Regions from separate parts of the Homo sapiens genome. Here region 1 is linked to region 2. Evidence: fine-mapped expression QTL. A gene starts in region 2. The other region holds a variant in brackets. All regions are shown on one strand. Distances are from middle to middle. Region 1 overlaps ZNF180 (zinc finger protein 180). Region 2 holds the start of ZNF180 (zinc finger protein 180).

What was found. PIP is the estimated chance that this variant, and not a neighbour inherited with it, causes the effect.
Region 1: its variant is the best candidate, but not a certain one, in a credible set for the expression of ZNF180 in prefrontal cortex (GTEx, PIP 0.68).

Annotation. Positions count from the first base shown.
Region 1 is chr19:44,470,060-44,475,435 of GRCh38, reverse strand. It overlaps ZNF180 (zinc finger protein 180), which reads left to right. Exons shown (of 5, transcript NM_001278509.3): 5 at 1-993. It also overlaps the pseudogene ZNF285BP. Among named protein-coding and RNA genes, the nearest start is that of ZNF229, 24 kb to the right of the region's middle. The variant A/G (reference allele first, on the strand shown) is at 2,248.
Region 2 is chr19:44,497,368-44,502,743 of GRCh38, reverse strand. It overlaps ZNF180 (zinc finger protein 180), which reads left to right and starts at 2,222. Exons shown (of 5, transcript NM_001278509.3): 1 at 2,222-2,469; 2 at 5,367-5,376. RefSeq lists enhancers at 1,767-1,816, 1,993-2,287, 2,127-2,336, 2,347-2,406, 1,953-2,453 and 2 more.

The sequences.
Region 1 (5,376 bases), 27 kb after region 2:
CATATGAAGAACTGAGAATGCGTGGGAAGTATAGAGGGCAAGTGGGCTTATTTTCATATATGCAAAGCAATATTAAGGAACTCTATTTTCATGTTTTAGTTCTTCCCCTCATGTAGCATTGTCTCTTTCCTCTGGGATATGTTCCCTGATGTGAGAGTCCTCTGAATAGAAGGGTGCTTCCCTGGCTCAGTGCTGACCGTCTAAATTATGCTTGCAAAAATGCTTTCATGAGGCAAAGTTTTAGTTACTCTTTGATATTTAAGATTTGATTAACATGTCTTTCTGACCTTTCCCTTGAATCATGAATTTGAATCCTGTGGATGACCATATATTGAAGCCTCTGATCCCAGAAAGGTAATAAGCTGAAAGTTGAACTGAGAGACCAGATAATAGAGGTTAATACCCTTGGGATAGGAAAGAAAACTTAAAGGGTAACTGATGGGGTTATCCTTAGCAAAATTCTATCCCTATGAGATGACCCTAAGTGGAGCCATCTCTATGAGGATTAATCCAGAGATTGTTGCACACCTGGCAGTGTCAGGTCTGGGAAAACAGTTGCTGATGTTTTCATGGAGTGTGAAATACTGAAAGCTGCGGGCATCCCTTGGGGACCACTGACCCACACTTTGAAGAACCCTCAATGAGTCTGAAAGAGGTTCAGTATCTCTTGGGAAGGATGTGTTCCAGGCTCCAGGCCTAGTCTTACATGGCCAGTGGGGTTGAAAGACTGTGCCCCTGCAATGGTCTTTTCCTAAGACAGTTGAACAAAGTTCCAAGTCTGTCTGTCCTATTTTAACCATCTTTAAGAAGCACAAAGGGGATATGAGAAAAACAGATGCTGAAATGAAAATTTTAACTGATATCTTACTTATCTCACAAGTCGTGTAAAGAAAGAAATGATATGGTCGAATATTAGATTAGATGGTTTAATGATGTTTTGAGTGTTATATATGAGCTATGATGAGACCTAGAAAATAAAGTAAAAATAAAAAATATATAAGCCATGAACATTCTTCATATTCAGTGACAGTCTGCCTGCCACACCCAGGAATTACAGAGACACTCATAGACCTCACGGGATCCTCCCCTATGTCTCCCATCTCTTCACCACCAGCCCTCAGGGAGTCTCATGTCTCCCAATTACTCTCCAATCATTCCTAGATTTCTGTAACAGTCAGGCCCTGACACCCATGTAACAAGCAGAAACTCAGGGACCTCACAGGGCTCTGGCCCCATGTCTCCCAACTCTTTACTCCAGGCCCTCAGGTACTCTCCTGTGTCTCCCAGATTCTCTCAATCCCCAGCTTACTGCAACATTCAGCTTCCCAAACCCAAGTATCACCTATAGACAAAAATCTCAGGGCCCTCTTCTATCACGTCTCCCATCTCTTCACCTGCAACCCTCAGGGACTCTCCTGTGTCTCCCAGCTCCTCTCCAACCATCCCCAGATTTCTCCTTGGGTCAGCCCTGAACACACAGGAGTCACCCAGAAACTCATAGACCTCACTGTGCTCCTCCCTTATCTCTGTCACCTCTATACCACCATTCCTTAGGGCCTCATCTGTGTCTCCCAGCTATTCTCCAAGCATCCTCAGTTTTCTGCAAGAGTCACCCCTCAGCATTCAGGAGAACCCTAGAAATTCACAGAGCTCACCAGATTATTCCCCAACTACCTCCACCTACACAGCAATGGCTCCCACATACTCCCTGGGGGCCCCACACCTATCTTCCTTTACACTCAGAGACTCCCAGGGCCTCACAGTCACTCCCCATTATCATCATTCAGCTGTAAGTCCTTGCAAATCTCCTGGCCAACGTGATGCATTTACCTGCCCATTTCTCCACATTCCTGCTCAGGGTCCCACACCTAGCCGCAGAAGAGCCCCTTCCGCATTCCAGCCTCAAATACAGGCTTGTCCTTCTACTTCATACTGCCACACACTTGCCGGCAGAAGAGGCGCGTCTAATGGCCGACATCACCACCCAGGCAATCATCACCCCTCAGCTGTGCAGCGGGACCCTCCTGCCTGCCGATGTGGCTGCCGGCGCCTGTGCCAGCGCGAACCCCCAGCCTGTCATGCTGACCTCATCGATGGCAGCGTCCCTGTCTTTTGCTCCCCCAGCCCTCCCAAAGGCTGAGTTAGCCTCTATCATCTGGAATACAGTGTGGCTTCTGTTTTCCTAATTGAACCCTGACTTACTACCTTTATAATGTTTCTCTCTGCTTATGTAGTCTTTGATGAGTC[A/G]GAAGGTCCTTGCCACGCTCACAATGTGTGTACTGTGTCTCATCTATATGCACTCTCTGATGGGCAAGGAGGTATGAATTACGACTGAAGCCCTTACCACATGCCTTACACTTATAGGGCCTCTCTCCTGTGTGGACTCTGAGGTGAACACGAAGATCTGAATTCCGACTGAAGTCTTTACCACACTCATCACATTTATATGGTTTCTCTCTGGTGTGATCTCTTTGATGTAAGTGAAAATATGAACTGTAACTAAAGCACTTTCCACACACTTTGCATTTATATGGTTTTTCTCGAGTGTGAACTCAGATGAGTGTGAAGAACAGAGCTATACACAAAATCCTTTCCACACACATTGCATTTGTATGGTTTCTCCCCTGTGTGGACTCTCTGGTGAATGTGAAGGTGTGTACTTTGGCTGAAGCCCTTTCCACACTCATCACACCTATAAGGTTTCTCCCCTGTGTGAAACCTCCAGTGGACTTGAAGAACGGAGCTTGAACTAAAGCACTTGCCACACTCACTGCATTTGTAGGGCTTCTCTCCAGCGTGGACTCTCTGATGGACAAGAAGGTTGGAGCTCTGATCAAAGCCCTTCCCACACTCTTCACTTTTATAGGGCTTTTCCCTGTGTGTACTCCCTGATGAATACAAAGAAGTGACCTAAATCCAAACCCTTTCCCACATGCATCACATTTGTAGGGCATCTCCCTTGTGTGGACTCCATGATGGTTATAAAGGAAGGAGTTGCACCTGAAGCCCTTGCCACATTCTTTACATTTGTAGGGTTTGTTTCCTGAAGGGACTTTCTGATATCTGGGAAGGTCTGAGCTCTGTTTGCAGCCCATAGGCCATTCGTGGAATTCATAGGGAGTCTCGCCAGAGTGAGTTTTACAATGAACGATAAGATCTTGGCTCTGACTAAAGTTCTTTCCATACTGGTCACATTTATAAGATTTTTCTCCTAGGTGAGTGCTGTGATGGACATGAGGATCTGTATCATCTGCAAAGGGCACCCCACAGTTATTACATGTGAAAGGCTGTGGTAATACATGGACTGCATTATGTTGTTCAACTGTTGATTTCATACCAAAGTTTTTCCTGCAGTTGGGATGTCTACCAGGGTCCTCTCCTTTACATTCTTGGGACTCATGATGATCATGTGAGGTCCAGTTGAGGCTGTCATCATGCTGAGCACGTCTGTACAATTTCTCTTCCATGTAAATTCCCTTATATCTTCCCTGAGAGTTCTGGGGCTCGGTCATTATGTTGGCTTTCCTCCACGATTCTGGGGTAAGAACCTGTGTCAGGCTTTGCCATGCTGTGATATCCTGATTTTTGATAATGACATTTGCTACATAGTTTTCATTTTCAGAAATCTGAAGAGACTTGCCTGCTCACTCTTCACAGAGGGAAACATTTTTAAATGTGGGGAACACTCTTCTTGAAGGTTCATGATATAATCCTGACTCCCAGTTAAATCCTGGATCCTTTGTTTCGAAATCTGCCAGCAATGAAGCACTTCTTGTAAAAGGTAATTCAACCCCTTTTCCTGAAGATTCAAAATGTTGTTTTTAATCCCATCTCTTATGAGAAGAAAGAGAATGTGGCTAAGAGACCAAGTCAATCATCTGTCCAGAGGTTTTGAGAAAACGAAATATGATGGGGTGGGAAGTTGTCCCTGGCTTCTATTGACATATGAAACAATTAGAGCCACGGTAATTCTAACCTGTGAGCTGCCAATTGGAAATCAAGTGTTGTAGGGAAATTAAAAGAAATCTTGGCCAGGTGCAGTGGCTCATGCCTGTAATAGCAACACTTTGAGAGGCTGAGGTGGGAGGATCACTCAAGCCCAGGAGATCAAGACCAGGCTGGGCAATATGATGAGATCCCATCTCTACAAAAAAATTAAAAATTGGCTCAGTTTTGCCTATGATCCCAGCCACTTGGAAATCTGAGGTTGGAGGATTGCTTAATCCTGGGAGGCAGAGGTTGCAGTGAGCCAAGATTGTGCCACTGCATTCCAGCCTGGGTGACAGAGCAAGACCTTTCCACCCCTACTCTGCAAAAAAGAAAAAAAAGGAAATCTTAGGAAAAATTTATGAAGGAAGAAATTCACCTCCCTGCTATAAGAGTAGTCGATAAAAAGCCTTTAATAATCTTGCTACAAAAGGTATGGGAAAGGCTCCCATTTTATGTAGTGTGTGTGTGTATATAAATAATACATATTGATGGAGTGTTTTTTATATGTTGGGCAGAGTAAGGGACACAAAGGGTCACAAGAGGTTTCAGAAACAAGCAACAAGTCCTATCTCCTGATGGCTTCCCTTCCTTCACATCACTGTCATATGGAGGACTATCATGTATGTTTGTGTACAACCTGCACAACTGTACATGGTGAGCCTAAAGGGGATGGGGATAAAAAGGCAATGGGGATTGAAATGGGGTAAACATTGTGAAATATGGTCCTGGCGTTGTGCGGGGATGCGTATGTAAACCTCTGAGACAAGCTTTAAGAGACATCCTTTTTATTTTCCCCAAGGTTCTTTGTCTTCATGAAAAGATAGAGACCACTCAGATCCTACAATCCATTTCCTTAAGTTCTGCCCTTTTAAGTTGTTGCAGAATCTCAAACAGCCATGACTATGAAAATGGGGAACAGATACTGTGGCACTGTCAATGGCCTGGCACCCAGGGAAGCAAGACTGTGGTATATAACAAACAGGGGGCTGAGGCAGAAGAGGACGATCATATTCTTGGGATCCTAAGATGGGTTTCAAAATGGCATGAATATCATGGTCAAGTCCCACTGGATACTGCTTCTGGTTCAAGGTCCTTTCTGGGTTGTTTTATTGAAAGTGACTTTAGTTTATAAGATAGTATCAGGGAAAGGGAGACCACGAGCTGCCCTGAATAGGGTTTAAGCAGTGGTTTCCCAATTGTTTTGATTGTAACCCACAGTAAAATCAGCATTGTGACTCAGTAGGAATAGGCACAAACATCAACACAGACTGCTCACTAAAACTTGCTCAGCTGATAGTTACATACTGTGTGCAATGTACTTTGATAAATTCTTTTGTTTTCTGTTCTATTAATCTATTTTGCTTTTTAAAAATTGCTAGTTATGAC
Region 2 (5,376 bases):
TTTATCTTACTAAATTTACTTATAAGGCTTTTTTTTTTTGCTTTTTTGTGAATACATACGAACTTTTTCTGTTTTGTTTGCAAACTTAGTATTGCTTGCACGTAGAGGAAAGATACTGATGTGTAGACAAGCGGCAACATAATGTAAAAGTTAAGAGCATGGACTCTAGAGTTCAACATCTTGGTCTCAAATGCACAACATAGGTGGAAATACAGATGAAACAAGACTGAGTGAAAATATTTAAGTTGGATGACATAGGTCTTGGGGAGTCATTAATTGAGTCCCTACTTTTGTTTTGAAATTTACAAAATAAAAGGTTAAAAAAATAAGCTACTTACTTCAATGTAGAAACCGATGTCACATTTAACCCTCAAACTTCAGAGATATGTCCATTAAAAGAACACAAACAAGAATGCCTCTTTTAGTAATACTTTTTTGGAAATGGTAGCCAATATAATCCAACATGAAAGAGAATGTCTAATTTAAAATACTGGTAAGGAAAAGATGAAATTGTAGATAACTGTCTCAATAGAAAAGCCAAGAGAGTCAACTGGAGTATTGTAAGAATTAATAACATTGCAGTAGGTTAACCAGATACAAAATAAGTATTTTTTAAAAGATCAACCACAATAACCAATAATAAGAAGCTTTGGGGATAGAGATTACATTTCAAATAGTAATAATTCATTGTTTTTAAAGGTCAGAATTTACGTGAAGAAAACTACAGGAGTGCTTTGACAAGCATTTTAAAAACTAAAAAATTATGTATTTTCATACAGCAGGGCTCCAATTTTCAGCTACCTCCCTGGTAGGATGAAAATTAACACAACTACCTCATAGGCTGATTGGGCTTGGTAATGAAATATTAAAGTGTTTAATACAGAGACAGGAACCTTTATTTAGCCAACGAATATTTATTGAGCATCTATTATGTGCCAGGTCTCTCTCTTTTTTTTTTTTTTAGGTGTTGGGGATGCAGCAGTGATCAACATCGATAAAATGCTTTTCCTTATGGAATTGACATCGTAGTGGTAGGTCGGACAGTAGACCAAATAAATAATTAAAATATATAGTGTGCTAGATAGTGAAAAGTTCTTTAGAGAAAAAAATAAAAGATGAAGGGGGAGGCACAGAGCATGTGGGGAGGGAAGCGTTTGCTTGCAAGTTCACAACGGGTGGTGGGGCAATGCCTCATGAGAAGATGATATTCCCCTAATTACCAGACGGTGAGAGCCAAATGAATCCCTCAGGAGAGGCTGCTAGGGAGTGCAAAGAGCACCTGCAAACGACCAGGGGCTGGAGTCTGCTGGATCTGTTGGAGAATGGGGAAAATGTGCCAAGCAAATGGGCAAGAAATGAGGGCAAAGAGAAAAGGGGACTACGCCTGTAATCCCAGCACTTTGGGAGGCCGAGGGCGGATCACCTGAGGTCAGGAGTTGGAGACTAACCTGGCCAACGTGGTGAAACCCCGTCTCTACTAAAAATACAAAAATTAGCCGGGCGTGGTGGCTGGCGCCTGTAATCCCAGCTATTCAGGAGGCTGAGGCAGGAGAATCGCTTGAATCCGGGAGGTGGAGGTTGCAGTGAGCCGAGATCGCGCTATTGCCCTCCAGCCTGGGCGACAAGAGCGAAATTCCGTCTCAAAACAACAAAACAAAACAAAACAAAAACAGAGAAAAGGGGAGAGGTGGGGGGAACAGATCCTTCAGGCCTTATAGGCAGAGAAAGAACTCAAAATTTAAAAATAAAATGATTATATTTTAGTATTATTAAATGTAAAAACATAGATTCCTGAAGGGTTCGGTAGACGCTCCCTCCACTGTAAAATGGGGATGTCGCAACTGTCTCACAGGTTTCCCCTAGGACTAGAGGAGACAAGGGGTCGCGCGCAGCGTCTGACAGGCAGGGGGCACCCAGAAAGGGTCCCCGCCATTTCTATTGGATTCTGACGTCACGCCAGAGCGACTCCCCATGCGTCGCTGCACTGGCCTCGGCCTCCCGGCGCCGCGGCTGGTCTTAGTGCTCCCCCTAGACCTGCACATGCACAGGTGTGGCGCCCCCCCGGGCCCCGGACGAGGACGCCCTCTTAGCTTCTGGCCCGGTCCCCCGCCCCACTTCCTTGGAGAAGCCGGAACCCCGCCTACTGACCGTCCGCGCCGCGGAGGCTTCTGGGAATTGTAGTTCTGGCTCTCCGAGCCCAAGTGCACTTCCGGGTTCGGCCACAAGAGCAGCCATTGTCCCGCGCGCGGACGCTTGCTGTCGCCGAGCAGCTCGGCCCTTCAGACTTAACCCCCAGCGGCCTTGCGGATGCTGACTAGGAGAGGGGACCGAACTAGCTTAACCCGAGTCGGCCGTGTTGCAGAATCGGGGCAGGGGGTTGCCTAACCCGAGTTCGTCCTGCCGCAGAGCCGTGCTAGGCACTGAGGCGGTGACAGGCCCAGCCTGGGCTGCGGGCCAGCGGACGCCCAGGTTGGTAGGGGCGTGGGGCAGCGCTTGGTGTCCGATGCGCGCATGCGCAGGGTCTACGCGGGAAGCTGGAAGCGGTGGTGAGTGTAGCGGGGAGACCTGGTATCTGTGCGGGTGGCGCTTTAGCCTCGGGTCACCGGGGTTGATGGAGTTACTGATACAGCTGTATATTCCGCGACTGTCCTCTGCGTGCATGCGCGGGTGCTTGGTCAGGTGGTGCTCTTGTCTGGGGCCTGAGGATGCCCAGGTTGCTGGAACACAGGGCACATGCATTGATGTAAGGGGACATCTTGAGAACTCCCCTCCTCCAATGCCGGGCTTATTTAGTGGAGGCCTGAGGATGTCCGGGTTGATGGAGTGCTCCATTGCAGATTGTGGTTTCTGGAGAGGAGGGGCTGTGCCACTGTCCCTTTACTCTTGATCAGGTATTTGGGTAGGAAGCAAAAGGTTGTAGGTAAGATTCCGAGCAGGTGGCTCTGGGCCCCTAGAGCAGACAACGCGCTTCTCCAAGGTCTGGGGGCGCTGTGGTTGGTGGAGAGACCAGATTGGAGTTGCAGATTCTTGTGCCAGAAGAGGCAGTGTTGCTAGTGAACCCTTGGTGGGAATTACCCATGGGCAGCAAACTCCCAGGCTGAAGGAGGGTATCAGGGCCTAGAAACAGGTTCTGGGCAGAGGGCCCCCTGCACGTCCTGGGGGTGTCTGAATGGAAAACAGAAACTTGAACTGATAGTAGGGACCTATGTAGGATAGTGCAGAGCTCTAGAGCATTCAAGATGGGCAGAGACTCCGGGTTGGAGATACAGAATTTAAGTCCAGGAAGGACAGAGCTGCAACAGCTGCCATCAAATTGGTAGCTGGGGAGGAAGCAGTATGTTGCCAGCATCGTTATGAAGCAGGTGTTGCTGAGACCTTTACTTGGGTACGCTATTTGCAGGCGTGAGAATGTGCAGGTTAGTAGAGGGACAGAGCCTGTGCTGCAGATTTGGTCCCGGGAAGAGCTGACTGCACAACACCCAGGCCGTCATGATTGGGCAAGAGAAGGACAAAGGGCCCAGTTCCCATTGAGCTGCTGTATCGTAGGCTCGAGAACCCCCACGCTGGCGAGTGCCCAAGTCCTGGGGCTGATTATGGAGCTGTATGCTCAAGCTACTGTTTAGTTGTTGTAGTGTCCTGGCTGCGGGCAAATAGTGGGGCAGTTGACCCCAGAACCTACACAGAGGCTGTGGGTACCTGAGATGTCCCAGGCAGGTTGAGACACAGGGTGAGGGATGTAGATTGTTGACTCAGGAGCATGGTGTGCCCCCAGACGGGCAGAGGAGCCAGGTCCTGGATGCAGATTGTGAGCACGAACCTGCTCTGTGGCTGTATCAGTAGGAGGGAGTCTAGGTGGGTGGCCCGTGTGCAGTGGCTGTGGAATAGAGGCCTGGGGGCTCCAGTTTGGATCTGGTCTTAGGAGGCACGGGGCTGCTCCAGCAACACTCTGCACGTGTGCTGGCATTTGGGCAGATTGGGGAGGCATGGGCAGTCCTAGGACCCTGATTCTGCCTGAGGATGCCCAGGTGTGTGGGGGGGAGCAGCTGCAGAGGGGCGGGACTGTGTCAGGCACCCCTTGTGCACACACACCGGTGTTTGGTTGGGAAACAGGAGGCCGGAGATGAGTTTTAGACAGAGGGTGCTGGGGTCTTTGTGTGATTGGAACCCTGATCACAGCCTGATGGTGCCCAGTTTGGTGGAAAGACAGGATCTTCCTGAGCCACAGGTGCCCCCGAAAGATGTTTGGTCAGAATCTGGGCAGGTGTGGCTCAAGCAGGGGGCTGTGGAGTAAGGTGGAGGAAACAGTTTGGGTGCAATTTCAGGAAACAGCTGCATTGTGAACCTACGCTATGCTGCGTGAGAATATGGTGGGAGCAGGGGAGAGAGTAAGTGGGAGAGATGGAGTGCAGAGGGTGGGGTGCCTAGGGTAGGATTTGCCCTCTAGTCTTGGATCCCAAAACACCTAGTTGGTACAGAGGCACCTGAGCTTCTGAGACATGTATTTAGAGCCTGGGTAGGGCTGCTTTTGTCTGGCTTGTGCTGGTGTCTGTTGGAGGCCCCCAGCCCTATGCAGGCCTTGTTGTAGTTTCAGGCCTGAGTATACCCAAGTTGGTGGAGGGACTGGTTTAGAGCTACAAATTCAGGGCCTGGGAGGGTGTTAGGGTGGGAATCTGGCTGGTGCTGTTCGAGTAGGAGCCAGTGGACCCCAGAAGTGTGGAGGGAACAGGATGTGGGTATAGCTGAGCTCTGTGCATAAATGCTTGGCTATTTGAGCAGGATGTGGGTGGCCCTCTGTGCTGAGTTGCTGGAGGGACAGGTCTGGCTGATGGAACGGTAGGATCAGTCTTAGTTGTTGAATCAGTTCCTGGGAGCAGTGGAGCTGTGTCACCAGCTTCATGCAGTTAGGCAGTGAGTGTGATTCTGGCCCTAGGAAGAAGTGCTGGTTTGGGGCTGTAGATTGAGGTTGGTAGGGGTAGGATGGGGTGAACACCAGGGGGTCCTCAATATGCCTGATATTTGTGGGGATCCCAGGGCCCAGTGAATAGGAGAGGGATGGACTGGTGCTGCAGACTTTGGTGGTGGGCAGAAGGCCATGTTGGGCACAAGCTGGGCTTACAGGTAGATGGTCCAGGGGCCCAAGATGGTGGAGGAACCAGGTTGGAGCTGCAGAAACTTGACCTGGGAGAGGGACTGAGGGACTCTCAGTACATACACAGGTATTTGGGCAGGAAGCTGGCAGGAACCTCCAGAAGTGCATTTGCTATGGGAATGCATCCTGCATCCTGGGAGCAGGGGCTAATGGGGGTGGGGGGCCCAGCGGTTCCGGCAGACCTACATCTTCATGCTGTACTTGGGGCTTCTCTCAGTGCAGCTCAG